4 linked regions of the Homo sapiens genome follow. The main gene of each other region encodes a partner of the protein of the gene in region 4 in a complex. Each region holds a gene or a part of one and is shown on either strand. Other genes may lie near its edges.

What was found.
Region 1: FBXL13 (region 4) and DRC10 share a complex: the UniProt entries of both Homo sapiens proteins name them as parts of the nexin-dynein regulatory complex.
Region 2: FBXL13 (region 4) and DRC8 share a complex: the UniProt entries of both Homo sapiens proteins name them as parts of the nexin-dynein regulatory complex.
Region 3: FBXL13 (region 4) and DRC3 share a complex: the UniProt entries of both Homo sapiens proteins name them as parts of the nexin-dynein regulatory complex.

Annotation. Positions count from the first base shown.
Region 1 is NC_000012.12:113,218,090-113,225,975, forward strand, and holds the start of DRC10 (dynein regulatory complex protein 10), read right to left. Parts: upstream 3,006-7,886; 5' UTR 2,908-3,005; intron 1-2,907. Other genes in the region: TPCN1 (two pore channel protein 1), read left to right, coding at 7,157-7,247. UniProt on the Homo sapiens protein: Component of the nexin-dynein regulatory complex (N-DRC), a key regulator of ciliary/flagellar motility which maintains the alignment and integrity of the distal axoneme and regulates microtubule sliding in motile axonemes.
Region 2 is NC_000001.11:244,972,660-244,979,681, reverse strand, and holds part of DRC8 (dynein regulatory complex protein 8), read right to left. Parts: exon of another isoform or gene 6,384-7,022; coding exon of another isoform or gene 6,255-6,383; intron 1-6,254. UniProt on the Homo sapiens protein: Component of the nexin-dynein regulatory complex (N-DRC), a key regulator of ciliary/flagellar motility which maintains the alignment and integrity of the distal axoneme and regulates microtubule sliding in motile axonemes.
Region 3 is NC_000017.11:17,975,852-17,982,873, reverse strand, and holds part of DRC3 (dynein regulatory complex subunit 3), read right to left. Parts: intron 5,319-7,022; exon of another isoform or gene 5,293-5,318; 5' UTR 5,276-5,292; coding exon 5,116-5,275; exon of another isoform or gene 4,898-5,115; intron 1,886-4,897; exon of another isoform or gene 1,643-1,885; coding exon of another isoform or gene 1,583-1,642; exon of another isoform or gene 1,214-1,582; intron 1-1,213. UniProt on the Homo sapiens protein: Component of the nexin-dynein regulatory complex (N-DRC) a key regulator of ciliary/flagellar motility which maintains the alignment and integrity of the distal axoneme and regulates microtubule sliding in motile axonemes.
Region 4 is NC_000007.14:103,071,789-103,079,203, reverse strand, and holds the start of FBXL13 (F-box and leucine-rich repeat protein 13), read left to right. Parts: upstream 1-4,407; 5' UTR 4,408-4,433; coding exon 4,434-4,508; intron 4,509-4,635; exon of another isoform or gene 4,636-4,958; intron 4,959-7,415. Other genes in the region: ARMC10 (armadillo repeat-containing protein 10), read right to left, coding at 3,209-3,427, 3,793-3,931. UniProt on the Homo sapiens protein: Substrate-recognition component of the SCF (SKP1-CUL1-F-box protein)-type E3 ubiquitin ligase complex.

The sequences.
Region 1 (7,886 bases), on a different chromosome or scaffold from region 4:
TTTTCTCACCCAAAACATCAATAGAGCTGAGGTTGAAAAACCCTGACCTTTTTTTTTTTTTTTTGAGATGGAGTTTTGCTCTCGTTTCCCAGGCTGGAGTGCCATGGCGTGATCTCGGCTCACTGCAACCTCTGCCTCCTGGGTTCAAGCGATTCTCCTGCCTCAGCCTCCCAAGTAGCTGGGATTACAGGCATGCGCCACCACGCGCAGCTAATTTTTTTTTTTTGTATTTTTAGTAGAGACGGGGTTTCTCCATGTTGGTCAGGCTGGTCTCAAATTCCCTACCTCAGGTGATCTGCCTGCCTTGGCCTCCCAAAGTGCTGGGATTTACAGGCGTGAGCCACCGTGCCCGGCTGCCTTTTTTTTTTAATAGACAGGGTCTTACTCTGTCACGCAGGCTAGAGTGCAGCAGTGCAACCATGGATTACTGTAGCCTTGACCTCCCCAGGCTCAGGTGATCCTCCCACCTCAGCCTTCTGAATAGTTGGGACTACAGGTGCATACCACCATGCCTGGCTAATTTTTGTATTTTTTGTAGAGATAGGGTCTCACTTTGTTACCAGGCTCCTAGGCTCAAACTCCTAGGCTCAAACTAGGATCCTCCTGCCTTGGCCTCCCAAATTGCTGGGATTACAGGCGTGAGCCACTGGGCCAAAAACCCTCAACTTAACATGTTTTTGAGGTTCATCCAGGTTGTAGCAATTATTAGTATTTCATTCCTGAATAGTATTTTATTGCTGAATAGTATTCCATTCTAAGGAAATATCATGAGTTATTTATTTATTCACCTGTTGATGACATTTGGGTTGTTTCCAGTTTTGGGCTGTTAAGGGTGATGTTGCTAAGAACATTTATATTTAAGTCTTTGTGTGGACTTATGTTTTCACTTGGGAGGGGTAACTTCCTAAGAGTGGAATTGCTAGGTTATGTGTAAGTTTATTTTTTGTTTTATTTATTTATTTTTGAGACAGGGTCTCACTCTGTCACATAGACTGGAGTGCAGTGGCACGATCTCGGCTCACTGCAACCTCCGCCTCCTGGGTTCAGGTGATTCTCCTGCCTCAGCCTCCCAAATGGCTGGGATTACAGGGACCCGCCAGCATGCCCTGCTAATTTTTGTATTTTTAGTAGAGACGGGGTTTTGCTATGTTGGCCAGGCTGGTCTCGAACTCCTGACCTCAGGTGATCCACCTGCCTGTGCCTCCTACAGTGCTGGGATTACAGGCACGAGCCACTGTGCCTGGCCTATGTTTAACTTTTTAAGAAACTGCCAACTATATTTCAGATTGGTGGTACCAATTGGTATTCTGCTGTACCTACCGGCAACATATGAAAGCTACAGTTTGTTTATTTATCTACATGATGATACTTGGTATTGTCTTTTTGATTTTTAAATGTCTACTCAACTCTTTTGCCCATTAAAAAAATTGAGTTGTCCTCTTATTGAGTTATAAGAGTTATTTTTATATTCTATATACAACTCTTTTATGACACATGATTTGCAAATATTTCCTCCATGTCTGTGTCTGTGGCTGATCTTTTCATTTTCTTATGAAAATATCTTTTGAACCTCAAAGTTTTTTTTTTATATATTTTTTTGAGACAGGGTTTTTCGCTCTGTCGCCCAGGCTGGAGTGCAGTAGTGCAATCATGGCTCACCGCAACCTCCGCCTCTTGCGATCAAGCAATTCTCCCACCTCAGCCTTATTTATTTATTTATTTATTTATTTATTTTTTGAGCTGGAGTCTCGCTCTATCACCCAGACTGGAGTGCAGTGGCACGATCTCGGCTCGCTGCAACCTCCACCACCCGGGTTCAAGAAATTCTCCCGCTCAGCCTCCTGAGTAGCTGGGATCACAGGCACACGCCACCAGGCCCGGCTAATTTTTGTATTTTTAGTAGAGACAGGGTTTCACCATGTTGGCCAGGCTAGTCGCAAACTCCTGGCCTCAGGTGATCTGCTGGCCCAGGTGATCTGCTGGCCTCGGCCTCCCAAAGTGCTGGGATTACAGGCTGAGCCACCGCGCCCGGCCCTTAGCCTCATTTAATCATCACAAGAAACTCTCTGTCTTCAGTAGGTACAATGAGATCACATCTTAAGGATGGAGATGGGAGTTAAATTCCAAAGTTAGGATAAAGGCAAAAGTGGTGTAATAAAAATTACCTAATTTATTTATTTATTTGAGACAGAGTCTTGCTCTGTTGCCCGGGCTGGAGTGCAATGGCGCTATCTTGGCTTACTGCAACCTAAGTCTCCCGGGTTCAAGTGATTCTCGTGCCTTAGCCTCCCGAGTAGTTGGGATTACAGGTGCGCCTCCATGCTCAGCTAATTTTTGTATTTTCAGTAGAGATGGGGTTTCACCATACTGGCTAGGCTGGCCTAGAACTCCTGACCTCAAGTGATCTGCCCGCCTCGGCCTCCCAAAGTGCTGGGATTACAGGCGTGAGCCACCATGCTCGGCAAAAACAACAACAACAACAACAAAACAAACAAACAAAACTACCTAATTTAAACACTGAAGTGAGATTGCCTGCTCACCGAGGAACGTATGGCCGTTGGGTGAAATGGGAGGGGACTTATAAACTCCCCTCCCACCCACAGCTCCCATGTTTGACTTGAAATAAGTTAACTACGATATGACTCTGCTTGACTGTTGTCCTCCTCGTTTTAGGGATGAGGGAGTGGAGCCATGAAGTGGGCAGGTAGAAGGGCAGAATGGAGGCCGGCTCCCTGCAGGTTGTGGAGCGAAAGGTCCAGACTAAGGCAGGAGCTGAGGGACAGGGTCCTGAAGCTGAGACGAGATCGCAGCGGGGGCTTCTAATTCCTCAGGGAGCCAAAGGACAGAGGGCTGAACCCTATTCCACATCTCCCCCGATCCGCGACCCTTTCCCAACTGGCTACTCACCTGCTCTGACCGCTCCAGGTTTCCCTAGCCACAGTTACCGCCGCGGTCCCTGCGTTGCTAGGTTACCCGCCAATCTCAGAAGGCGAGACTCGGTGTCTGACTGACCTTTCTTTTCACCATTCAATTTATTGTTCCGCTCAGTTGTCCCCACCTCCTGAAGTCTGACCAATCAGAAGCACCGCCATTTTGACCTTTCACCAATGGAAAGACTTGGGACTCCCTCTGGGTTGGACTCAACGAGTAAGGCGGGGAACAAGGGAGGAGTAAGGGGCGTGGATTCTTCGTCCCGCCCCTTCTTAAGGAGGCGGGCAGGGAGTACCGCATCGGCGGCGGGCGAGACCTGCGGAAGGACGTGATAGTTGGCCAATCAGAGTTCATCACGGTAGCCCAGTTAGCCAGTAGGACGCTGTGAAGGGGAAATGGGGCGGGGCCAGCGGGGTTGAGAGGACGGTAGGCGGTGGATAGGAGAGCTGGCGCAGCTGCCCTGGTGGCAGTGGCTGAAGTGGCGGCGGCTTCGGCGGCTGCGGCGGCTGCAACAGCTTCGGGCTCGGGGTTTTGGCGGCGGCGCCGGCGGGCTAGGCTGCGCGGTGCGGACCCCGGCGCGCGGTCCGGGTTGCTGGGGCGGCGCGTGTAAGAATCCGAGGGATGCGACGGCTTGGCCCGAGGGAGAGGGCAGGGATCAGGGGTCAGAGGACGCGGAGTAAGGGGTTGCGGCGCAGCACTCTGGTGTGGGAGGTGGGCCGTACGGGCCCAGAGGGGGCGCAGGGAAGTCTCCACCGCGCTTCTCTCCGTCCAGCCCGGGCCGGGGCTTTGCACCCTCTCTCCTCGCCCCCGACTTCTTAGGGCGACCCTCACGTGGGCTCCCAGCCAGGGGCTGGGAGCACGTGGAGCTGGAGCCAGCTGTCCTGCCTCCTTCTTCCTCCCTCCCTCGCTCTTCTCCCTGGCGCCCTTAGGTGACCCCACAGGAGTCTTGTGCCTGGGTCAGGCTGCCCCAGCGGACAGCGGGATGGTAGCTGAACCTCTTCCCCTAGGCCCTTTCCCCAGCGCTGGCCAGTTGGGTCCTCTGTAGAGGCAGAAGCAAAGCCCGCGGAGGGAACACTGGACCAGGACGCAGGAGTCCCGGGTTCTAGCCCTACTCCTCCACTGTGTGACCTTGGGCAAGTCTCTTCCCCTCTCTGGGCCTCATTTTTGTCTGTCTGGAAAAATGACGTGTTTGAATTCAAATCAGGGGACTGGTTCTAGTCGTAGGTGTATATAGGGTAATGGTTAAGCAGGCAGGGTCCCTGATTCAGACTGCCTGGGTTGAAACTTATAAAAGGCAAGTTAACCACTCCAAGCTTCAATTTCCTCATTCCTAAAGTGGGGATATTAGCTAAGATAGGATTTTTCAACAGCAGCTCAGTTGACATTTTGAGCCACATAATTCTGTTTCGGGAGGTCTCACCTGTGCATTGAAGCAAGTTCAGTGGCATACCTGGACTCCACCCACCAGCAATCCCCCCACTCCCAAGTTGTGACAGTCAAGATGTCTCCAGACATTGCCGATGTCCCCATGGGGGCAAAAATCACCCCAGTTGAAAGCCAGTGGGCAAAGGCAGTACAGGCAGGCAAGCAGTCATATATTAAACAGTTAAACAACCGTGTTGAAGCATTTGAATGCGAGGACTTTAATCTATGGTGGCAGATATCATGAAAATTATGCATGAACAACCCCCCTGCCTCTTTTTTTTTAGCTCATCATTAATGGTAGTGTATTTTATGTGTGGCCCAAGATAGTTCTTCCAGCGTGGCCCAGGGAAGCCAAAAGGTTGGACAGCCGTGAGTTAAAACATAGAAACCACTAGCCATTATGATAATGGTAACATTAAGAAACCTCTTCTCTGTGAGTTAATAAATTCTCCTGCCTTCAAAGTAAACATGGGAGATAATTGTCAAAGCTGAGTAATGGATACAAGGAAGTTCACGTATATATTCTCTGCACTTTTGAGAATGTTTGAAAATATCTGTGGTAAAAAGTTAAACCAAAACGACAATACAACCATAATTCTTAAGACTGCCAAATAGTAGTGTCTCATCTGGGATTTCCTCTTCTGCCTTTCCACTGCTGAGATTTAAAAGCAAAATAAATCCCCAGATCTGGAGGAAACTTAAGAAAAAAAAACTCACAGGAAGTGTGCTGGGCAGAGAGCTACGGGCTTAGCAGCAAGTAGAATGATGTTTACTTTCGCTGCCTTGTTTCAAAACGTTGTACTGTTCCCTGTGGATGCACAAGGATTTGCTTGGAGTTGTTCCAATGATTCGAGGAAGAAGTCAGTTGCTCAGCTGCCATTGACTAGGTCAGTTGGGAGGCAAAGTGGGTTGAGCCCAGAGCCCACAGCTTGAGGAAGGAACCTGCTGCTGTTTGCAAGTTCAAAGGTCTGCAGTCAGATCTGCTGAGTCTTTTTTTTTTTTTTTTTGGTTCTTCTCAGCGGAAACGGGAATGTGCATAAATAGGAGCTGTAACAGGCTAGCTCGGAGTGTTTTACTTATTTAGTTATTTTTAAATTTTTAGTTTATTTATTTTTTGAGATGGAGTCTCGCTCTGTCGCCCAGGCTGGAGTGTAGTGGCGTGATCTCAGTTCACTGCAACCTCTGCCTCCTGGGTTCAAGTGATTCTCCTGCTTCAGGCTCCCCAGTAGCTGGGATTACAGGCATGCACCACCACACCTGGCTAATTTTTGTATTTTTAGTAGAGACCAGGTTTCGCCATGTTGGCCAGGCTGGTCTCAAACTCCTGACCTCAAGCGATCCACCTGCCTCGGCCTCTCAAAATGTTGGGATTACAGGCATGAGCCACCACTCCCGGCTGCTCTGAGTGTTTTAAATTGGGAGTTAAGGATGAGCACTTTTACTGTATTAAAAAATACTCACCAGTTAAAAAAAAATACTCTTTTCCCCTTCCTCGGACACCTAAATCTAAGAGAACAACTCCTATATAAAAATGATATAAAAATCATACATTTTGGAAGTATGTTTCTAACTGTTCTGAGAGGCTGCATGGTAAAGCTGAAGTGAAAGATGTATTTTAAATCTGTATATATGAGCAAGTATATATTGATGATTGAAGCTAGGTGCTGCCTAAATACATGGCCCAGACTTTGAGGAATTATAGTGTAATGGCTGGGAATACAGGTTTGGAGTCACACCGTAGAGCTGAAAGCTTGGCTTTTATTTAGCTGTGGGTCCTTGGGCAGGATACGTAATCTGTCTGTGCCTGAAATACCCACCACACCCATCCTGTAATGGGGGGATAATAAGCCTGCCTATCTCATGGGGCTATTAAGAATTTTCAGTTAACTTTTACTTATGAAGTGCTAGTAGGGTCCCTCATACATAGTACGCACTCATTGAGTATTAACTATTATTATTATTACTATTTTGAGACGAGTCTCGCTCTGTCGCCCAGGCTGGAGTGCAGTGGTGCAATCTCGGCTCACTGCAAGCTCCGCCTCCCGGGTTCACGCCTTTCTCCTGCCTCAACCTCCTGAGCAGCTGGGACTACAGGCGTCTGCCACCACGCCCGGCTAATTTTTTGTATTTTTAGTAGAGACGGGGTTTCACCATGTTAGCCAGGATGGTCTTGATCTCCTGACCTCGTGATCCGCCCGCCTCGGCCTCCCAAAGTGCTGGGATTACAGGCATGAGCCACCGCGCCTGGCCGCATATTAACTATTATTTTAATGGTTGTATTTTTTTGTCATTTAATTTAATTAAATTAATTTATTTATTTATTTGAGGTGGAATCTGGCTCTGTCGCCCAGGCTGCAGTGCAGTGCACCATCTCGGCTCACTGCAACCTCTGCCTCCTGGGTTCAAGTGATTCTCCTGCCTCAGCCTACAGAGTAGCTGGGATTACAGGCGCAAGCCACCACACCCAGCTAATTTTTGTATCTTTAATAGAGGCGGGGTTTCTTCATTTTGGCCAGGCTGGTCTTGAACTCCTGAGCTCAAGTGATCCACCCGTCTCTGCCTCCCAAAGTGCTGGGATTACAGTTGTAAGCCACCGTGCCCAGCCTTTTATTTTACTTTATTTTTTAGAGACAGGGTCTCACTCTGTTGTCCAGGCTGGACTGCAGTGGTGTGATCATAGCTCACTATAACCTCCAACTCCTGGGATCAAGTGTTTCCGTCACCTCAGCCTCCCAAGCAGCTAGGCCTACAGGCATATGCCATCATACCCAGCTAATTTAAAATTTTTTATTTTGTAGAGATGGAGTCTTGCTACATTGCCCAGGCTGGTCTTGAACTGCTAGGCTCAAGCAGTTCTCCCACCTTGACCTCCCAAAGCGCTGAGATTACAGGTGGGAGCCACTGTGCCCAGCCTATTTTTTTCTTTGAAGTCTTTACAAAACTTACAAATAAATGTAAAGAGAAGTGGAGGTAGGACATATTGGCCCTAATGTCACTCTCCAGACAGAATTACCCTTAACTTTTCAGTATTTGTTCTTGCAGGGTTCCCTCCCTCCGTATTTTAATGCTATTATACTGTAATAATGCTTTTATTCTGTTTTTATTTATTTATTTATCTTTATTTTATTTTTTTGAGACAGAGTCTCGCCCTGTCACCCAGGCTGGATGGCTCTATCTCGGTTCACTGCAACCTCTGCCTTCCGGGTTCAAGCGATTCTCCTGCCTCAGCTTCTTGAGTAGCTGGGATTACCGGCACGTGCCACCCCGCCCAGCTAATTTTTTGAATTTTTGGTAGAGATGGGTTTTCACCATGTTGGCCAGGCTGCTCTCAAACTCCTGACCTCAGGATCCGCCCGCCTCGGCCTCCCAAAGTGCTGGGATTACAGGTGTCAGCCACTGTGCCCGGCCTAATTCTTTTATTTTTTAAGAGACAGGATTTCACTCTGTTGCCCAAGCCAGAGTGCAGTGGTGCAGTCATAGCTCACTGTAGCCTTGAACTCCTGGGCTCAAGTGAGCCTTCTGAGTAGCTG
Region 2 (7,022 bases), on a different chromosome or scaffold from region 4:
TCACATGAGGTCAGGAGTTCCAGACCAGCCTGGCCAACATGGTGAAACCCCGTCTCTACTAAAAATACAAAAATTAGGCCAGGCGCAGTGGCTCACACCTGTAATCCTAGTACTTTGGGAGGCCAAGGCAGGCGGATCATTTGAGGTCAGGAGTTCGAGACCAGACTGGCCAGTATGGTGAAACCCCGTCTACTAAAAATATAAAAAAATGAGCCCAGCATGGTGGCACATGTCTGTAATCCCAGCTACTTGGGAGGCTGAGACATAAGAATCGCTTGAACCCAGGAGGCAGAGGTTGCAGTGAGCCGAGATCACGCCACTGCATTCCAACCTGGGCGACAAGAGCAAGACTACGTCTCAAAAAAAAAAAAAAAAAAAAAAAAAAAAAAGATAAGCTTCGGTTATCTCCTTCAGAAAGCCAACTTTGATTCAACATTCAGCAAATACTGAGCTATATGCCATGCTCTGGGTATATGCATGAGCATGACCCCTATCCTTTTGGAAGTTAAGAGTCTAGGAGAAGCAGACATCAAACAACACATCTACAGGCAATTACAAAATATAGTATGAAAGAGGAAAAAAACAAATAGCTATGAGAGGGAATAAAAAGGGGCTATAATTTAAAGAGGGTGTGTGTGAATCAGGTGACTCTCCCCAGGCACCCAATCATCATACATGTGCAACTATCATAGCACTTATCACATTATTGTATCATTGTCTCCTTAGCTGCCTATCTTCCTCTTTAGATGGAAATTCTTCAAACCAAAGGTCAGATAAATTGACACTAACAAGCAAAATCTTAAAAAGAATAAAAAAAAAGGCAATGTCCAAATTCTAGTCCAGGTTTTTAAACTCCCAATTTTACTAGTGCATTTAAAAAAATAAAATTATGGGCCAGAGGTGGTGGCTCAAGCCTGTAATCCCAGCACTTTGGGAGGCCAAGGTGGTAGGATTGCCTGAGGCCAGGAGTTTGAGACTAGCCTGGGCAACAGAGCAAGATCTTATCTCTACCAAAAATAAAAATGTTAGTTGGGCACAGTGGCACGCCCCTGCAGTCCCAGCTACTTGGGAGGCCAAAGTGGGAAGATCACTTGAGCCCAGAAAGTAGAGGCTACAGTGAGCTGTGATCAAGCCACTGCACCCCAGCCAGGGTGACAGAGTGAGACCTCGTCTCTTTTTTTTTTTTTTTTGAGACGGAGTTCCGCTCTTGTTGCCTAGGCTGGAGTAAAATGGTGCTCTCAGCTCATCACAACCTCCGCCTCCCGGGTTCAAGTGATTCTCCTACCTCAGCCTCCCGAGTAGCTGGGATAACAGGCATGCGCCACCATGCCCAGCTAATTTTGTATTTTTAATAGAGACGGGGTTTTCCCGTGTTGGCCAGGCTGGTCTTGAATTTCCAACCTCAGGCGATCCGCCAGCCTCAGCCTCCCAAAGTGCTGAGATTACAGGCGTGAGCCACTGCGCCCGGCCTAGATCTCATCTCTTAAAAAATAAAAATAAAAACTAAAATTACTTTTTTACAGTCTTAATATCTATAAAATCCATACTAGAGGTTTACAAAGGATTGTCAAGTACAGGATCTGGTAAACACACTTTCACAAGTGGGTAAGAATAATTTTTAATTAGCATATTTAAGTGGGTTTTTAAAGTTTTGTAGAACTGACATTAAAATGAGATTTTAAAAATAAGTGCCCCTAAAAGTCTAATCACCCTGCTATCATCATCATCTCCTGGGCTCCCCCACGTGTCCTTACCCATTTACACATATAATTTTTATATATTTGGCTGCAACCCAACAAGTGGACATACAACCATTTATTTTGTATGCCCCATTAGTTGGACATGCAAATGTTATCTATATTTTCAAATTTATAGATAACTTTATGTTGATCATTTTTGTGCTTAGAGCATTTTTTATTCTTTTCAGAATATATTTCTAAGGATAAATATCCAGAAGTATATTAAAGCTCAAAGCATGTGGACATCACTTTTTATTATTATTTTTTATTTTTTTGGTTTTAAGAAATAGAGAGTTTAACAGGCAAGAAGGAGCAAGAAAGGAGAAGGAAGAAGCTTCCCTGTACAGAGACAGAGGGATGGGGGCTCCAAAGCCAACAGAGGGAACCCCCGACTTCTTTATTATTATTTATTTTATTTTTAGCAAAGATGAGGTCTCAGCATGTTGCCCAGGCTGGTCTCGAACTCCTGGTCTCAAGTAATCCTCCTACCTCAGCCTCCCAAAGTGCTGAGTTTACAGATGTGAGCCACCTTGCCTAGCCATCATCATTTATTCTTCAATACAAATTTCCAAATTGCCTTTGAAAAACAATGTACCATTTCTTTCATTCTGAATGTACTCAACATTTTCTATTTACTAAAATGTGGTAAAATACACATAATGTAAAACTTACTGTATTAACCACTTTTAACCATATAGTTCAATAGTGTTAAGTACCTTCACACTGCTGGGCAACCAATCTCCAGAACTTCCTTCATCTTGCAGAACTGGAACTCTACACTCCTTAAACAACTTCCCATTCTCCTCTCCCCACAGCCCCTGGCAACCAGCAATCTACTTTCTGTCTCCATGAATTTGACTTCTCTAGGTACCTCATGTAAGTGGAATCACAGAGTATTTGTCTTTTTGACTGGCTTATTTCACTTAGCATGATGTCTTTCAGGTTCATTCAAGCGGTAGCATGTGTCAGAATTTCCTCCTTTGAAGGCTGAATAATATTTCACTACACGTATATACCACATTTGGTTTGTTCATTCATCCGCTGATGGACACTTGGCTTGCTTCCACCTTTTACCTACTGTGAACAATGTGCTATGAACATGGTTGTGCAAATATCTCTTCGAGGCCTTGCTTTCAATTACTGTGGATATATACCCACACGTGGAACTGCTGGGTCACATGGTAACTCAACTTTTAACTTTCTGAGGAACCGCCATACCACTTTCCATAGTAGCTGCACCATTTCTCATTGCCACCAACAGTCCACGAGGGTTCCAGTTTCTCCACATCCTCACCAATACTTATTATTTGGGGGACTTCTGGTGATAATAGCCTTCCTAACAGGCGTGAGGTAGTATCTCACTGTCCATTTGATCTTTAAAATTATGACTATTCTTGAGACATTTCTGTAAATTTTATATATCAGAGCAAAAACAAATTTCAGTCCAGTTTTTCTTCAAATTTTTTTTTATTCTGAATAAGAGGAAACAAATTAGGCTTCAAAAAGCTAGTCTTCTTGTTTGCTTAGTCTTAACCGGATATTTATATTGGTCTAAAACAGGAAGAAAACTTATTAAATTACCCCAGAAATATGCAGGAATGCATTATGCATGATCCCAATTGGTAAGACTTAAAAGTTTTCTTAACTCTTATGTTTTATTTGTTTTTTTGTTTTGAGATGGAGTCTTGCTCTGTTGCCTGGGCTGGAGTGCAATGCTGCGATCTAGGCTCACTGCAACCTCCATCCCCCAGGTTCAAGCAATTCTCCTGCCTCAACCTCTAGAGTAGCTGGGATAACAGGCAACCACCACCACACCCAACTAATTTTTGTATTTTTCGTAGAGAGAGCGTTTCACCATGTTGGTCAGGCTGGTCTCGAACTCCTGACCTCAGGTGATCTCCCCACCTCGGCCTCCCAAAGTGCTGGAATTACAAGCAGGAGCCACCACGCCTGGCCAACTCTTATGTTTTATGTTAAGCAGATACTAATACTTACTAATTCACTAGATACGTACCAAACACTTTCTTTCCCATTTATTCAGCATTCCTTTATTGTATTTTTTATTTATTTATTTATTTATTTTGAGACAGAGTCTCACCCTGTTACTCAGGCTGGAGTGCAGTAGTGTGATCTCAGCTCACTGCAACCTCCACCTCCTGGGTTCAAGCGATTCTCCTGCCTCAGCCTCCTGAGTAGTTGGGATTACAGGCACGCGCCACCACACTCAGCTAATTTTTTGTATTTTTAGTAGAGACAGGGTTTCACCATGTTGGCCAGGCTGGTTTTGAACTCCTGACCTCAAGTGATCCACCTGCCTGGGCCTCTCAAAGTGCTAGGATTACAGGCGTGAGCCGGCCTCAGCATTCCTTTGATGCCAGGCACTGTGGCAGGTGCTGGGGATGTAAAAATGAATAAGAAAACATTGTCCCCATTACAACATTATGAAATATTGGGGGTATAATTATCCCCACTTTACATCTGAGGAACTTGAAGCTACTTATGTTTAGCATCTCGGCTAAGATCAGATAATTAGAGCTTGGGGAAGACGGAATTCAAATTCAAGTCTTACTTCAAAGCTCAACCTTTGTACTGTCCCACAGGCTACACTCTATACTATCGACAGTTACTATGAGGCCAGGCAGGGTGGCTCATGCCTGTAATCTCAGCACTTTGGGAGGCCAAGGCAGGCAGATCACTTGAGCTCAAGAGTTCGAGCCAGGCGTGGTGGCTCACGCCTGTAATCCCAGCACTTTGGGAGGCCGAGGTGGGCGGATCACAAGGTCAGGAGATCGAGACCATCCTGGCTAATACGGTGAAACCCCATCACTACTAAAAATACAAAAAATTAGCCGGGCGTGGTGGCAGGCACCTGTAGTCCCAGCTACTCGGGAGGCTGAGGCAGGAGAATGGTGTGAACCTGGGAGGCAGAGCTTGCAGTGAGCCAAGATCGTGCCACTGCACTCCAGCCTGGGCGACAGAGCGAGACTCCATCTCAAAAAAAAAATAAAAATAAAAAAAATAAAGAGTTTGAGACCAGCGTAGCCAACACAGTGAAACCCTGTCTCTACAAATTAAAAAAATTAGTCGGGCATGGTGGCTTGCGCCTGTAGTCCCAGCTACTTGGGAGGCTGAGGTCGGGGGAATCGCTTGAGCCCAGGAGGTCGAGGCTGTAGTGAGCCGTGATGGCACCACTACATTCCAGCTTAGGCAACAGAGGTTGCACCACCACATTCCAGCCTGGGCAGCAGAGCAAGACCCTGTCTCAAAATAAAAGAAGAAAAAAAAAACAAAGACGTTATTTAAGGGAACCCTTTTTATAAAGTAATAGGCACCTGAAATTTCTGTTTTTTACTTTATATTTCCAAATGTTGGGTTTTCAAAAGAGTGGCACAATGAAGGAAATCAGAAACAAAACAACAAACCTTGTAAAACCTCTTCCATTTAGGAGGTGATAATTGAATTAGAGGCACTTTATCAAGCAATGTTATCAAAGCACGCAAAGTAACAAAGAATATTTTAATAGAAACAAAAATAGTAAATCCTAGAGTGAGCTTTTAATATCTGCAGCTTACTAAAAAGTTCTTACTTTCCAAAGCTCACTGGCTGCCAAAAGTTCAAATTTTATAACTAAGCAGTTTGTTTCCTAGACGTGAGTCTAATTACAAACAGAAGATCCTTCCAGTCCTATATAAAATTCTCTAAGAGACAGAAACAATAAGATTTAAGGAGCCAAAGAATCAACAATTGCATTGACTCTCCATTTAAACAGACAAAACAGAAGGAAAAGAAAGAACAAAACAAAAAATGTTCTGGCTGAGGAAACTTTGGAAAAATAATAAACCTTCAAAAATATTTTTTCTCATCCCGTTTCAAACATTCTTCTTTCAGTTAAAAAAGTGGTTTTAAAAATAATTTGGTTCTAAAGGTTAAACTTTTAGCTAATATAATTCTGTATAATTTTTAATCTATGAAAAAATAAATTATACTGTATGAAAGCAAAAAATGCTACAAATAAGTATAACAACTTCAACGTACATAATCTTAGAAAAAAATTTTATGAGCACAATAGCCCCTTCTAATTTAGGTAATTTTTCTTATCAATATTCTCAATACTTCTATCAAAGTTAATCTCTAAATATTGAAGAAGAGTGGATAGGATAGGTACCCTGAAACTTATTCCCCCTTTAGAACTTTTAGAAATCTCAATATTAAGGATGAACTATTTAAAACATATGTGTATTTCTACAATGAGGTTTTTTGTAGTTGTTTTTTAAAGACATGCTAGTGAATACCGTGGCACTGTGAAATAAAACGTTTTGTTGAGCCAGATGGAATAGAAGAATGTATCTTACCGGTAAAGCAGAGGGGAAAAGAGACCTAAAACGAGTTTTGTGTACTTTTAGGTATAGAATAAGTTTGGGGAAAATAGCTAGGAATGCTTTGGTTAAAATCTCATAAGCTGTCTTTGATTAATTCAAATGTTCTGAATTCAACAAATATTTATTGATTACCTACCACGTTCCAAGCACTCTGCACAACACTCAGTATTAACAGATCAGAAATGGTCCCAGATCTTTTGGAACTTAGAGGGTACTGAACACATCCTTCAAAATTATCCTTTCTTTTGTGTGATTCCACGGTCATCAAATGACTTCTGAAATACAAATTCACACTACCCGAAGCTTAGTACCCATAAAACAGTATATTATTATATTAGTATATTGCCAAAATTATTATATTAGTATATTGGCAAAATCAGCCTTCAAGTCAATGTATATACCCTTATTTAAATTAATAAATCATTCAGGTTTGCACATCAGTCTTTTATGAGTTTAGTTGAGTGAATCCTCAAAACTTAATCAATTCTGATTAATTGGTTAGACGTAATTTCTGAAAATTCAAAATACAGTAGCTGACAATCAAATATAGTAATAGACTATTTCCATAAAAAGATCTTACCACCAAAATGAGTCTCTACTTAGTTTATCCTCTAACAAAATGCCTTTATTTCATAATACCCTTCACAAACTGCAATTAGTTAATCCATAAAACTGTTAACAATAAATGAGATACAGCACATGAGTGCTTCTCGAACTTTGTTTTTTGTTTTTGTTTTTTTTTTTTTTTGAGACGGAGTCTTACTCTGTCGCCAGGCTGGAGTGCAGTGGTGTGATCTTGGCTCACTGCAGCCTCCGCCTCCCCGGTTCAAGCAATTCTCCTGTCTCAGCCTCCTGAGTAGCTGGGACTACAGGGCGTGCCACCACGCCCAGCTAATTTTTGTAT
Region 3 (7,022 bases), on a different chromosome or scaffold from region 4:
GGATGGGCGCAGTGGCTCACGCCTGTAATCACAGCACTTTGGGAGGCCGAGGCGGGCGGATCACAAGTTCAAGAGATCGAGACCATCCTGGCCAATGTGGTGAAACCCTGTCTCTGCTAAAGATACAAAAAATTGGCTGGGCGTGGTGGTGCACGTCTGTAGTCCCAGCTACTTGGGAGGCTGAGGCAGGAGAATCGCTTGAACCAGGGAGGCAGAGGTTGCAGTGAGCCAAGATCGCGCCACTGCAATCCAGGTGACAGAGCGAGACTCCATCTCAAAAAAAAAAAAAAAAAGAATATGCTCATTAAAAGAACTGAAATAATACAGAAGTGAAAGAAGTTTTCAAAATTGGTGCTGTGGGCCAGGCGTGGTGGCTCACGCCTGTAATCCCAGCACTTTGGGAGGCCAAGGTAGGCAGATCAGGAGGTGAGGAGGTGGAGACCATCCTGGCTAACACAGTGAAACCCTGTCTCTCCTAAAAACACAAAAAATTAGCTGGGCGTGGTGGCGGGCACCTGTAGTCCCAGCTACTCGGGAGGCTGAGGCAGGAGAATGGCGTGAACCCAGGAGGCGGAGCTTTCAGTGAGCCGAGATTGCGCCACTGAACTCCAGCCTGGGCGACAGAGCGAGACTCCATCTCAAAAAAAAAAAAAAAGAGATGGAGACCATCCTGGCCAACATGGTGAAACCCTGTCTCTACTAAAAATACAAAAATTAGTTGGGCGTGGTGACACGCGCTTGTAATCCCAGCTACTCTGGAGGCTGAGGCAGGAGAATCGCTTGAACCCAGGAGGCAGAGGTTGCAGTGAGCCTAGATTACGCCACTGAACTCCAGCCTGGATGACAGAGTGAGACTGTTTAAAAAAAAAAAAAAATTTGGTCCTGTGGCTGGGCATGGTGGCACACACCTGTAATCCCAGCACTTTGGGAGGCCAAGGCCGGTGGATTGCTTGAGACCAGGAGTTTGAGACCAGCCTGGCCAACATGGAAAAACACTGTCTCTATAATAAAAATACAAAAATTAGCTGGTGTCCCTGTAGTCCCAGCTACTCAGGAGGCTGAGGCAGCAGAATCACTTGAACCCAGGAGGCAGAGATGCAGTGAGCCAAGATCATGCCACTGCACTGCAGCCTGGGTGACAAAGCAAGACTCTGTCTCTAAATAAATAAATAAATAAAAAAAAATAAAAATCGGTGCTGAGGCATTGTGCCTCAGAGGAGCCTGAGCCAGCCAGTCTGCTGCATCCCTGCCACGTCCCCCACTGTGTCCCCTGCCAGGACCGACTGACCTGAGCCGGGCTGCCATGGACCACACGCCCCTGCTGTGGGAGTGGCTGCCCACCTACAACCTAGGGGCCGGCCAGGGCAACTATGCATGCAGCTTGCATGGCTACAGCGTCATCCCTGCTGCCCATCCCTTGCTGCTGCCCGCCCTCCCCTTACCTCATCACAGGGATACCCAACCACCACCCCAGGGTCTACAATGACCACAGCTGGACTATCACTTGGTACCCTGCCAATGCCATCGCCATCATGAGAGGCTGTCCCGTCTGCAGGGATAGGGTGCTGGAGGACTGCTTCACCTTCCTGGGAATCCTCCTGGCCATCATCCTGTTCCCCTTTGGGTTCATCTGCTGTTTTTCCTGGAGGAAGCAAAGATGCCCCAACTGCAGAGCAGCCTTTGCTTAAAGGGAACTTACACCTGGCTTTTCTACACCCAGCTCTCTTTTTCTAATGTACAATAGTTTTATTTGATTAAGCTTCAGGACTGTTTTGTAAAGTGAGGTGCGACAGATGTGGCACGCGGGAGCCAGGGTTTCCTGGAGCGTGGAGAGGCAGCGCTGCTGCTCCTGAGGTTAATGAGAACTCAGTAAAGCACTGCTTTTATTTTTTGCAGTCTTCAATTTGAGAAAGGTGAAATATAATGTTTTCAATAAATGAGATTCATGCCAAAAAAATAAAAAATACAAATACAAATTAGTGGCTAGGTGCGGTGGCTCACACGTGTAATCCCAGCACTTTGGGAGGCCGAGGTGGGCAGATCACGAGGTCAAGAGATCGAGACCATCTTGGCCAACATGGTGAAACCCCGTCTCTACTAAAAATACAGAAATTCACTGGGTGTGGTGGTGTACACCTGTAGTCCCAGCTACTCTGGAGGCTGAGGCAAGAGAATCACTTGAACCCGGGAGGTGAAGGTTGCAGTGAGCCTAGATCGTGCCACTGCACTCTAGCCTGGCGACAGAGTGAGACTCCATCTCAAAAAAAAAAAAAAAAAAATGCTGGGCGCAGTGGCTCATACCTATAATCCTAGCACTTTGGGAGCCTGAGGCAGGCAGATTGCCTGAGCTCAGGAGTTCGAAACCAGCCTGGGCAACATGGTGAAACCCCATCTCTACTAAAATAAAAAAAATTAGCCAGGCGTGGCCGCATATGCCTGTAGTTCCAGCTACTTGGGAGGCTGAGGCAGGAGAATTGCTTGAACTCAGGAGGCAGAGGTTGCAGTGAGCTGAGATCGCACTACTGCACTCTAGCACTCCAGCCTGGGCTGGGCGGCAGAGCGAGACTCCGTCTCTACAAAAAAAAAAACAACAACAATAAAACAAAACAAACAAACAAACAAAAAAAAAACATACAGTCCAGCTGCCGTTTCAATATTCATTCAGAGGGGCAGAGCCTGCCTGTGAGGTTGTGAAAGTCCCAGTGGGAAAGTGGGGAACCCCTCCTAGCTCCCCTCCCTGCACAAAGTTCTGGGGAGGACAGGGTTCTCTGACCCAGGTCCAGAGGGGCACACCGCCCTTCCCCTAGAGCTGGATTGCTGCCCTGCACCTCTCCTGGGTTCCCAGGGCTGGGTGGGACTGCCCTTCCCTTAGAGCTGGATTGCTGCCTTGCACCTATCCTGGGTTCCCAGGGCTGGGTGGGACTGCCCTTCCCCTAGAGCCGGATTGCTGCGTAGTGCCTCTCCTGGGTTCCCAGGGCTGGGTGGGACTGGTGCCTGTTCTTCAGCTCCCTGTTTGTGGCCAGATTTCCCAGAATGATACTGGCCACAATTCCCACCTGTGCTTCCAGGGTGGGGCCAGTTCTGCCCCAGCCTCCCGGCCACCTCCCAACCCTGGGTTGGATTTTCCAGGTGCCTTTTCTGGCCCTGATCTGACAGCCCCCCAGCAGTAGCACTCCCCCTGTGGCTCCTGCACACCGGGTGCTCTGCCACACACGCCAGCATGCCGGCTTTTTCCCAGGTGTCAGCAGTTCAGGAGGAAAAGCCAAAACAACACAACAAATCAGGATGTACTTGGCAGTTAGCTCTAAATGAGTTACCAGCATGACAGGACTGCCAAAAAAAGCCGATTTAATCTTCAACAAAGACACTAAATCTGCCCCTGTGGCCACCACCTCGGCCAGGCCTGTGGTCATCACTCACTGGAGTACAGCAGTGGCCATCTTACTAGATCCTTGCCTCGGCCCCTGGCCTCCACGGTCTATCCTCACGCAGCCAGCAGGGTCCTGTGAAATCCTAAGTCCCATCCTGTCCCACTTCTGCTCAGGACCCTCCCGGGGTCCCCACTTCACTCACTGTAAGAGCCAAACACCTTCCACTGTCTCCAAGCTGACACCATGACCTCCCCGACCTGTCTCTCCACAGTGGCTTCCTCAGCAGAGATGATAAGGCGGGGTCCAGCCTGCCCCAGGCCCTTTGCACTGGCTGCTCCACTTTCCCTGGTGGATCTGCACAGCAGCTCTCTCCCTTGCCTACCTCAAGTTGTTGCTAAATTGTTACCTTCTTGGTGAAGCCCCTGGCCACTCTATAAAACACTGTACTCCACCCCCAACTTCCCTTTTCTCCTCTCCTTCCTTTTTTCCTCCACACCACATATTACGTTTAGCAAATAGTATTATTTTCCTTCTTCATTTTATTTAATTGTCCCCCATCAAGTTGAATGTCAGCTCCATGAGGACAAGGCTTTTGTCTTTTTTTGCTCATAGTTGAATCCCTAGTGCTCAGAACAGTACCTGGCATGTAACAGGCAGGTGTTCAATACTGGCTGCATGAACCTCAGGTTGGGGAGGGGAAACAGAGGGCAAGCGGTCAGCTGCAAAAGCCCCCTCCTGCCGCACCTGTTCTGTGCCCCTTTACCCCTCCCGGGGCTGTGGCTCAGGGCCCTCCCTGATTGGGTGGTCAGCCCTGGGAGCCTATGGGCTTCGTGGGGCTGTGCCTGGGCCATGCCTGACTTGCCCACTGTCGTGTCCCTGGCTCTGGCAGCAGGGCTGGACTGAGGCAGGGTCTCAATACCTCCTTGTTGTTGACTGGATGCCGGCCAGCCTAGGGGCCCCAAGACAGAGCACGAATGTGAATCAGACCAGGTCACTCTGCTGTGGCCTTGCCTGCACATGATACAAAGGGGGGTCTCAGGATCCCTGCCCACCTCTCTCACTGCCCTCGTACTGCCTCTGCCTTCACTTACTGTGCCTGGCTTGCTGTGTGAGCCAGGCACTGTGCACGTGCTGTCTCACCTTGTCCCCCCACCCAATGCTCGAGACAGGGATGACAGCCATCCCATTCCACAGACGGGACATTGAAGCAGTGAGGGTCCGCCTGGTCCTGAGCCACATCTTCTCACTCCTGATGTGCCTCCCTGCCTCAAGGGCCTGTGCTCCTCCTGCTACCAGCCTGTCTTTGGTCACCCCTTCCCTGAAGCTGCCATCCCAGTGCCCGCTCTCATTCTCCCACACTTCCTACCCTCTGCTTCTGGCTACGTGGGACTTCCTAGGCTCTGCCTGCCAGGGACCCCCACTCCAAGGACACCCATGTGGAGTTGTGTGATGGAAACAGCATAGTCTTGGGGGCTCACTTAGATTTGGCGTGGGACAATTTTATCTTGTTTTCTATTCTTATTCAGAATCCGGAGCGTCGTGGATATTCAAATGATGAAGACACTAAGTATGACGCTTTACAAACATCTGTGCTGCTCCTATGCCTTGTAACCCAGGTAGGCCCTAATGCTGATGTGGGAACCTCGACCGTGGACTTTGCATGGAATCCTGGGGCTTGAAGATGGAGCAGAGAAAGCCAGGGAGGGCCCACCCTGGCCACCACCCCTGAACCTTGGATACATACTCCGAAAGTCCAGCTGCAGGGACAGGACATCCTTGAAGAGGATGCCCTCCTGCTTGGCCAGCTGCCCGGCCTCCTCCTGGGGGCCCTGGTCCCCGACGGCCAGCTTGAGCATGTCATCGTCCATCACCCTCGGCTCCATCGAGTTGCACGGCTGGTTCATCTTCCCCCACGTTTTCCCTAAAAAACACCGCATTCTTCCTTCACGGCCTGCTTCTTTCTCTGTTTGAGGGCAGGGTCTGGCTGAGGTTTCCCCCTGTAGTGTCTTGTGGCCACTGGCACTCTGAGGAATGCCCCACGCCCAGCCCTGGGTCTGCTGCATCTCGGGGTTTGTATACTTACGCCAAGGCTGCTCCAGGGCTTCCTGGCAACCACCTGGGCCTGTCCACAGGGTTTCATCCCTTGACCCTACAGCCACAGCTGGGACCCTCGCTGGACCCACTGGACTGGTGTCCACACTGGTCTCCCTAGCCTGTGATCTTGACTCATCTTATGACTGTGGCCCTGTGTCAGGCCTCTGACTTTGTATGCCCATCCTCACTTGGGCTTGTGGGTACCAACCACTGACTGTGCTCCCTGGGCAGCCCCAGCCAGGCCTGTCAGCCTGCAGCTCCTCTTCCTTGAGCACCTCACCCCCTCCAGGCCGTCATGTGTGTATGCCCCACACCACACCACAAGCTTCTCCTGGTGCAGAGGGAGCCCCTGACCCAAGCTGCCCATTCACGTCCTCCCCGTGGGAGATGTGAAGTTGAGGCTGTGGAATGAGAGTGCCCATCGGAGCTGGCTGCTTGAGCTGGGGAGGAATAGGGAGTGTGGGCTGGCTGGGTACATAGTTAAGCAGAGAGCAAGAGGGGGAGGAGGCAGATGCACAGAGAAAAGCAGAGATGGGAACCTGGGAATCAGAAAACAAAAGACAAAGGACAGACAGATCGACACAGACAGAGGCTGCCTCCTTCTTGCTGGCTTTCCAGTCCCTAATGTCCCTAGGTCCAGGCCTCATGAGAGTTTCCTGTTTCTCACATGAAATCCTCTTCTACTTAAGCTAGCTCCAGTAGGTTATTTTTTAATTTAATTAATTTATTTTTTTTGAGACAGAGTCTCGCTCTGTCGCCCAGGCTGGGGCACAATGGCGCGGTCTCAGCTCACTGCAACGCCCGGATTCAAGCGATTCTCCTGCCTCAGCCTCCTGAGTAACTAGGATTTCAGGTGTCCACCACTACGCCTGGCTAATTTTTTGTATTTTTAGTAGAAACGGGGTTTCACCATGTTGGCCAGGCTGGTCTCAAACTCCTGACCTCAGGTGATCCACCTGCCTCCGCTTCCCAAAGTGCTGGGATTACAGGCATGAGCCACCGTGCCCAGCCTCCAGTAGATTCTGTTGCTAATGGTCCAGAGGGATTTGACTGAGACACCACAGCACAGGGGGGATCTGTAGATTTGGTCAGTCACAATGTGAGGCTGACTCCAGGCTGCCGTTCGTGGCTGGACCACATTCTCATCCTTATCAACCCTCTTGGTGAGGACATCCAGGAGGGATATTTTCCCCCACTTTCCACCCCTGATTCTTGCCTCCCTGCTGGCCCTACTTCCTATCTTTGTCTACATGCCTTCCCAGCATCTGGGCCTCCCTGAACCTCCTGTCCTTCTGCCCTGCTGGTCCCTGATGCTAGGCAGCCCCTGTGCTCTGTTTTTCATTCCACTGGGCACTGCTGGAGAAACTCCTGGTGCAGGGCTGATGGTGTCTGCTGAAAAGCCAGGTTGGGCCATACAATCCTGTTACCTGGTCTTAGAGACTTCCCTCTAAGACTGCCCTCCTCTTGCCTCCCTGACCATCCACTTGGATGCAGCTTCTGCAAATATGCATCCTCTGCCCTGAACTGTCCCTCATCAAATGTCCCAATGAGCTCTTG
Region 4 (7,415 bases):
ATCCCCTGATAGATTTGACTTGCTAATATTTTAAGATTTTTATATCTTTATTCATAGTTGAGACAGATTTATAGTTTTTCTTACCATCCTTGTCAGGTTATGACGTTAGATTGTTGGATGAATTGGGACTGTTTCCGTCTTTTTCAATGCTCTCAAACCACGTTAGTACAAAAATTATTTTATTTTTTATTTTTTAAGACAGAGTCTTGCTCTTTTGTCCAGGCTGGAGAGCAGCGGCACAATCACAGCTTACTGCAGCCTTGACCTCCTGGGCTCAAGGGTTTCTCCCAAAACAGCCTCCTGAGTAGCTGGGACTACAAGTGCACACTACCATGCCTGGCTAATTTTTCTATTTTTTGTAGAGATGGGGTTTCACTATGTTGCCCAGCCTGGTTTTGAACTCTGGGCTCAAGCGATTCTTCCACCTCAGCCTCCCAAAGGGATTAGAGGTGTGAGTTTAAAACAAAGAAAAGATCGCCACTGCACTCCAGCCTGGGCAACAGAGCAAGACTCCGTCTCAAAAAAAAACAAAAACAAAACAAACAAAAAACAAAAGATCATCTTCTGAAATCTAAGCGTGATGATGACTTTATTAGTCCATTCTCATGCTGCTATGAAGAACTGCCCGAGACTGGGTAATTTATAAAGGAAAGAGGTTTAATTGATTCACAGTTCCACATGGCTGGGGAGGCCTCAGGAAACTTACAATCATGGTGGAAGGGGAAGCAAACACTTCCTTCTTCATAGGCAGCAGGAAAGAGAAGGAGTGCAGAGCAAAGGGGGAAGCCCCTAATAAAACCATCAGATCTCCTGAGAACTATCACGAGAAGAGCATGGAGGGGAGGGGAACTGCCCCCGTGATTCAATTACCTTCCACCGGGTCCCTCCCACGATGTAGGGATTATGGGATTACAATTCAAGATAACATTTGGGCCGGGCACAGTGGCTGATGCCTGTAATTCCAGCACTTTGGGAGGCTAAGGCAGGCACATCACCTGGCCAACATGGTGAAACCCTGTCTCTACTAAAAATACAAAAAAAATTCGCCAGGCACATGGTGTGTACCTGTCATCTCAGCTACTCCGGAGGCCGAGGCAAGAGAATCGCTTGAACCCATGAGGTGGCGGTTGCAGTGAGCTGAGATCATGCCACTGCACTCCAGCCTGGGAGACAGAGTGCGACTCCGTCTCAAAAAAAAAGAAAAAGATGAGATTTGGGTGGGGACACAAAGCCAAACCATATTGATGATGAAATGAGCATTTCTCAAGTCTTCTTCAATGATAAAGGAGTAGCTTCAGGAAGAAGGGACTGTGAGCAAATTATTTTTTAAGCTGCCTTACCTAAGATAATGATGATTATGGGAACTGTTAAGTTTAAAAGACTGTCCACATTCATCAGATTGAGTCAGTATAACTGAGAAGATATCTGAGTCCAGGACACCTTCCCAATGTACTTATACAAAAATATCTCTGACATGGGCAAAGACAACAAATTAGGCTTTGTAAATGCTATGATTTGAATGTCTCCTGCGAAACTCATGTCGAAACTTAATTCCCAATGTGGCAGTATTGAGAGGTAAGGCCTTTAAGAGGTGACTGGATCATGAGGGGTCTGTCCTCATGAATGAATTAATCCATTCATGGATTAATGAGCAGGACTGGTGGCTTTATAAGAACAAGAGACCTGAGTCAGCATGTTAACACACTTGCCCCTCTGGCCTTGGGATGCCCTATGCCACAACAAGAAAGCCCTTACCAGCTACGGCCCCTCAATCTTGGACTTCTCAGCTTCCATAACTCTAAGAAATAAATTTCTTTCCTAATAAATTACCCAGTTTCAGATATTCTATTATAAGCAACAGAAAATGGACTAATACAGTAAGGGTACATACAAATCTTTAAAAAAAAAAAGCTGAATTATACCTAGTGGCAAAAGTGAGAGAGACCTTCCCCTTCCACTCCCTTTTTCTTAAAGCATTCCCTCGTGCAAACTTGTAATTAAAAATCCTTTATTGGCCAGGTGAGGAGGCTCAATCCTGTAATTCCAGCACTTCGGGATGCTGAGGCAGGAGCACTGCTTAAGCCAAGTTCAAATCAGCCTGGGCAACATGGTGAAAACTCATCTCCTAAAAAATTGGAAAAATTAGCCAGGTGTCGGTGTGCACCTGTAGTCCTAGTTACTTAGTGGGGTGAGGTGGGAGGAGCCCAGGGAAGTGGAGGCTGCAGCTGTGATTGCGCCGCTGCAGCTGTGATTGCGCCACTGCACCGAGCCTGGGTGACAGAGGGAGTCCCTGTCTGAAAACAAAACAAAACTCCTTTTTCTGCTTCTTTGATACAAATGTAAATCTTTTTGTTTGTTTTTTGTTTTTTGAGACAGAATCTTGCTCTGTCGCACAAGCTGGAGTGCAATGGTGCAATCTTGGCACACTGCAACCTCTGCCTCCTGGGTTCAAGTGATTCTCCTGCCTCAGCCTCCTGAGTAGCTGGGATTACAGGCACCCACCGCCAAGCCCGGCTAATTTTTGTATTTTTAGTAGAGATGGGGCTTCCCCATGTTGGTCAAGCTGGTCTTGAACTCCTGACCACATGATCCGCCTGCCTTGGCCTCCCAGAGTGCTGGGATTACAGGTGTGAGCCACCACACCCAGCCTGTAAATCTTTTTAAAAGTGAAATAAGCATTTGGCCAGTTTTACAGCCCAAGAAAGACTTTCTTAAAAGCTTTGGAGCCTACTGTTCGAAAGCGTACTCTTTGAAACCTACTCTTCCAGGAAGATAGATCCCCAATCTCCCCAACTCTGTGAGTTTTTAGCCTGGGCACCTGGTTCCACATCATAAAGATATTTTTATTTTTCCTCTGGATAAAGGCAATTAGATAACAACCACCCCAATTACCAGTAAATTCAGGATAAACTACATGTAGCAAATGGTACTGTCAAGTCCTCTTACCTAAGGACAAATTATTTTTTATCTTGAGAACACGTATGTAATATGAAATCGGTTCTATCTGTCCAGCTACATTTAAAGGAATTAGAATTCTTCCTGCTATCCCATTAGCAAATTGCCCGTGATGTGTGAGGCAATTTAGTTTGTGCTTATTCAACAATGAAGCTGTTTAGCTCTCTTCTACAATTGTGGACAGGAGTTTCTTGGATGGCAGATATGATATTTTAAATTATTTCCCTAACAGCTTCCATGATGTGAAACATGCCTTTGGAGGGTTTTAATGTACCGATCAACTTTTGGACAGAAACCGAATCATGCATTTGTCCGCTGGGAGGGTGTGTCTCGCGCAGACAACTGTTCCCATTTCCAAAACACACACCAGGCTGCGAGGTCTTGGACCACTGTGACTCCCAGGTACCTCCCGTCTGAGGCCGGGCCGAGCGCCCGCACAACTGACCCTCTGACGTCCCTTCTTCCAGGGCACCTGCAAGCAGAGATTGACCTATGGCTCTGGGCCCCTCAACAGCCCTTCCACAATCGGGAGAATCCCTTTAGTTACACAAAGGCCCGGAGCAAGCTTTAAAATGAGAGGCCATCAACAGGTTTTTAAGAAATCTAATCCTCCGCTGTGACGCGGAGCTCAGGCAGGAAAGCCAGGGCAAGTTTTCATACCAGTATAGTCAGCAAAGGGGCGGCGGGGGCGGCGCAGCACCCTGCACTCACACAAGTACTGCCTCTCCCTCTAGCTCGGCTCCTCATTTTACCCCGAGCACACGCAAGCCACCACCCCGGCCTGGGGAGCCCCCCTGCCCAGTCCCCGCCCACCTGCCGGAAACCCCGGGGTCCCACCTGCGGACTTCGAAGAGCGTATCCCGAGCTCGCGGTCGCCCCGCCGCCGACCCCGGGTCAGCCTGTAAATGCAGTAGCAGGCGCCCGCGCCGAGCAGCAGGCCCGCCGCCACCCAGCCCGCGCCCCGGGGGCCACCCATGCTGCCGCCGCGGCAGAGCCGCAGCGCCGGGCCAGGGCAGGAGGCTCGCGGGGGCCAGCGCGGAGGTCTCCAGCGCACGCGGGCCTAGCCGCCACAGCAAACGCCACCTGACCTGGATGTGGAGAAAGGAAATGGGGTCTGAGCTCCGCCTCCCGGAAACGGCCTAGCTCAAAGCCTATAACCGCCCACTCCAGCCCGGCGCGTCCCGGCGGCTTCTCCCAGGCGAGGCGGGGCGGTGCGGGGCGCTGCACACCGGGAGGGGGGGGTCGGACGGTGCGCCCCACGCGGAGACGCCGGGGCCCGCAACCCAGAGCCGAGCTTCCCGTCTCTTCCCCCGGGGCGTGAAGCAACCATTCCTCCCTCCCGCCCCTGGCAGCGGAGCGCGGGGCGGTGCCACGCCCAGCCCCGCCCCCTGGTTGCCGGGACAACGCCCGCACGCGCCCGGCCCCTAGTCCCAGCGCGGGGAGGGTACTATCGCAGCTTCTCCGTCAGGCCTTGGGCCATGGCCTCGCTACGCAATGCCAACCCGAGGCTGAAGAACTACTTCAAGGAGAACTACATTCCTCAGGTCTGCGAGGTACTGGACACGCGTGGCAGCGGACACAGACCGTCGGTGGGGAGTTAGAAGGGGGAGGAGTCAGGAAAGACTTCCCGGAGGAGGGACTAGGTTTCGGGATTGGGGAGGAGTGGAGGGAAGGCGGGGCAGAATGCGAGAAAGTGAAGTCAAATTCGGACTTGTAGGCGATCAGGGCTGAAGACGCTGATTAGAGAGAAAACAGAGGGTGATGGTGGCTGCACGTGGGGAATGGGTGACATCTCCCAGGGGGAATGAGCACAAGGCCCAGATCGGAAACCCCAAACTCAGATTTTAAGGTTTGGACAAGAAGTACCTGAGGAGTGGAGGAGTGAGAAAGAAGTGCCAGAGAGCCTGAGGAGGAAAATCAGCAGACTGGCATTATGAAGAATGTTGTCAGAAGTAGGGAGTAGGCACTAGTCACCTAAGATAAGGAGCTGGATTCTGCCCAAGGTGAGCCTGAGGTTTCCATGGAGCCGTGAGGGCAGAAAATAGATGGAGGTTAGCGGAGGGAAGAGTGGAAGCTGAGACCTTTGGTCAGTGTAGTCAGCCCTTTGTGAAGGTAAGGACCCTCTCAACCAGGATTGCCTTTAGACAACAGGAAGGACTGCCCTCCTACTGCCGTTATAAGAGTAGGGAAGGAAGACAGGAAGGGGATAGACATTAGGTTTTGTAGGTTTGGGGGTAGGAAGCTGAGAACATTTGCCTTTGTTGACCTCTTTTTTTCTCTACAAATAGTTGGTGAGATATTTACCAAGAATGTGCGTGTTTGAGTGGGGATGGGGATGTTGGTGCAGTAGGAGGTTCGAGCAAAGATACGTTATGTGGAGAATGAGGGAGAGAGATGTCTAGGGAAAGAAAGAGGAGGTCCTACCTGAGGGTAGTAACGCTCCTAGGCGGTTGGGAGGGCAATTTGGTAGAGACCCCCCACCCGTCTCTTTTTTGGATGGTAATTGAGAAATATTTATTAAGATGTTAAATACATGTACCCTTTAACCAAGCATTTCTACTTCTAGGGATCTACTTTAGAGAAATACTTGCACATGTGTTCAGGAGGATGTACAAGGATATTCATTATAACTTTGTTTCATAGTAAAAATAGTAAATGACCTAGAGTGACTAAGCGAATGAGGCATTATGTAGAATAAAGTATATCTGTACCTACTAAGAAGAAATGTCCTCCAAGACATATTATTATTATCATCATTATTATTGAGACACGGGGTGTTGGTCTGCCACCCAGGCTAGGGTGTAGTGGCTCCATCCTAGCTCACTGCAGCCTCAAACTCCTGGGCTCAATTGATCCTCCCACCTCATCCTCCCAAGTAGCTAGGACTACAGGCATACACCACATGGCTGGCTCCCAACACATATTATTAAGTAAAAAAGAAAAAGTGCAAGTTGCTTAGCAACTGTCCATTCTGCTCTAGCTGTCCATTTGATTTCATATATGTTGTATATGTGTTTATGTACATATATGTGTATATATCTAGCTTTAAGACAATAGTGCATGCATAGAACCTATGCCAAACTGTTAATAACAGATGTCTTGTGGAATGGTTTTGGGGGAAAAGATGGAGAATTCTAACTTTTTACTCTGTCCATAGCTGTATTGTTTTAATTTATTACAGTGAGTTTTGTGTTGTACCTCTATACAATTGTGCTTGAAAATATGTAGGGAGAATGGTACCCATCTTCCCGGTTGTGTGATTTTCTCAAGTAGCAGTCAGTAAATCAGATGTAGGTACAGAGATAACCAAGTTGACTTCGTCTGGGATAGGAATTTGCCAGGCATATATTAATAGAATGGAAAGGCAGTAGGTTAGGGAGCTAAGCTCCTGAGTATCTGAAGTGATGGGCCAAGGACTCTAAGGACTCAGTGGGAAATGAGAAAAGGATATCATACTGATACATGGACAGAAAGTGAAGACTCCTCTAAGAGGTGAGTGAAGAGAAGTAGAGGGAGTAATTAAGTGAGGGAGCTGGAAACACAGGAGGTGGGGGTCAGAAAGTGGAACGTTTATATTTACAATTCAGGGTGCAGCCATTCTGAGTGATGGCTCAGTCTGTGATATGGCGGTGGAGCAGGTGGCAGAAATGGACTTGAGTTGAGAGTCAGGGTACATCAAGGAAGGGATGGCCTCTTCTCATCTAGGCCGCCAGTTACTATAACATCACAAAGCTGCAATGAGGCAGTCCCCAGTTCCCCCTCTGGGTGAAAGCATTCCTTCCTTACCAGCTTACTGCATTGTTCTGCACCCATAGAGGAGGCCCTTATATGCATTCTCCATTGTCTAAGATCATGTTCTCCTGAGGAGTCCTTCACTCACCTCTGCTAGCACACTAGCAGGAAGTGCAAAGGAGCAATCCTCTGGGCCCCACACACCCACCTTAAACTCATTACCCATTTCTTCTAAGAGAATATCAAGATGAATTCCATTCTGCCTCATATCCTGTCTGTACATTTATTTATCTGACTCAATTTCCCAGATGGGTTTTATACTTTTTTTTTTTTTGAGACAGAGTCTAGCTCTGTCGCCCAGTCTAGAGTGCAGTGGTGCCATCTCAGCTCACTGCAACATCCGCCTCCTGGGTTCAAGCGATTCTCCTGCCTCAGCCTCCCAAATAGCTGGGACTACAGGCACCTGCCACCATGCTCAGCTAATTTTTGTATTTTTAGTCGAGACAGGGTTTCACCATGTTGGTCAGGCCGGTCTCGAACTCCTAACCTCAGGTGATCCACCCGCCTCAGCCTCCCAAAGTGCTGAGATTACAGGCATGACCCACCACAGCATGACCCACCATGTCTGGCAGGTTTTATACTTTTCTAAAACCCATCTTCTGCAAGCCTTGGAATACATAAATAACCTTTCATTAAAGTTTTCCCTGTATATTTAACCTCTTCTGAAT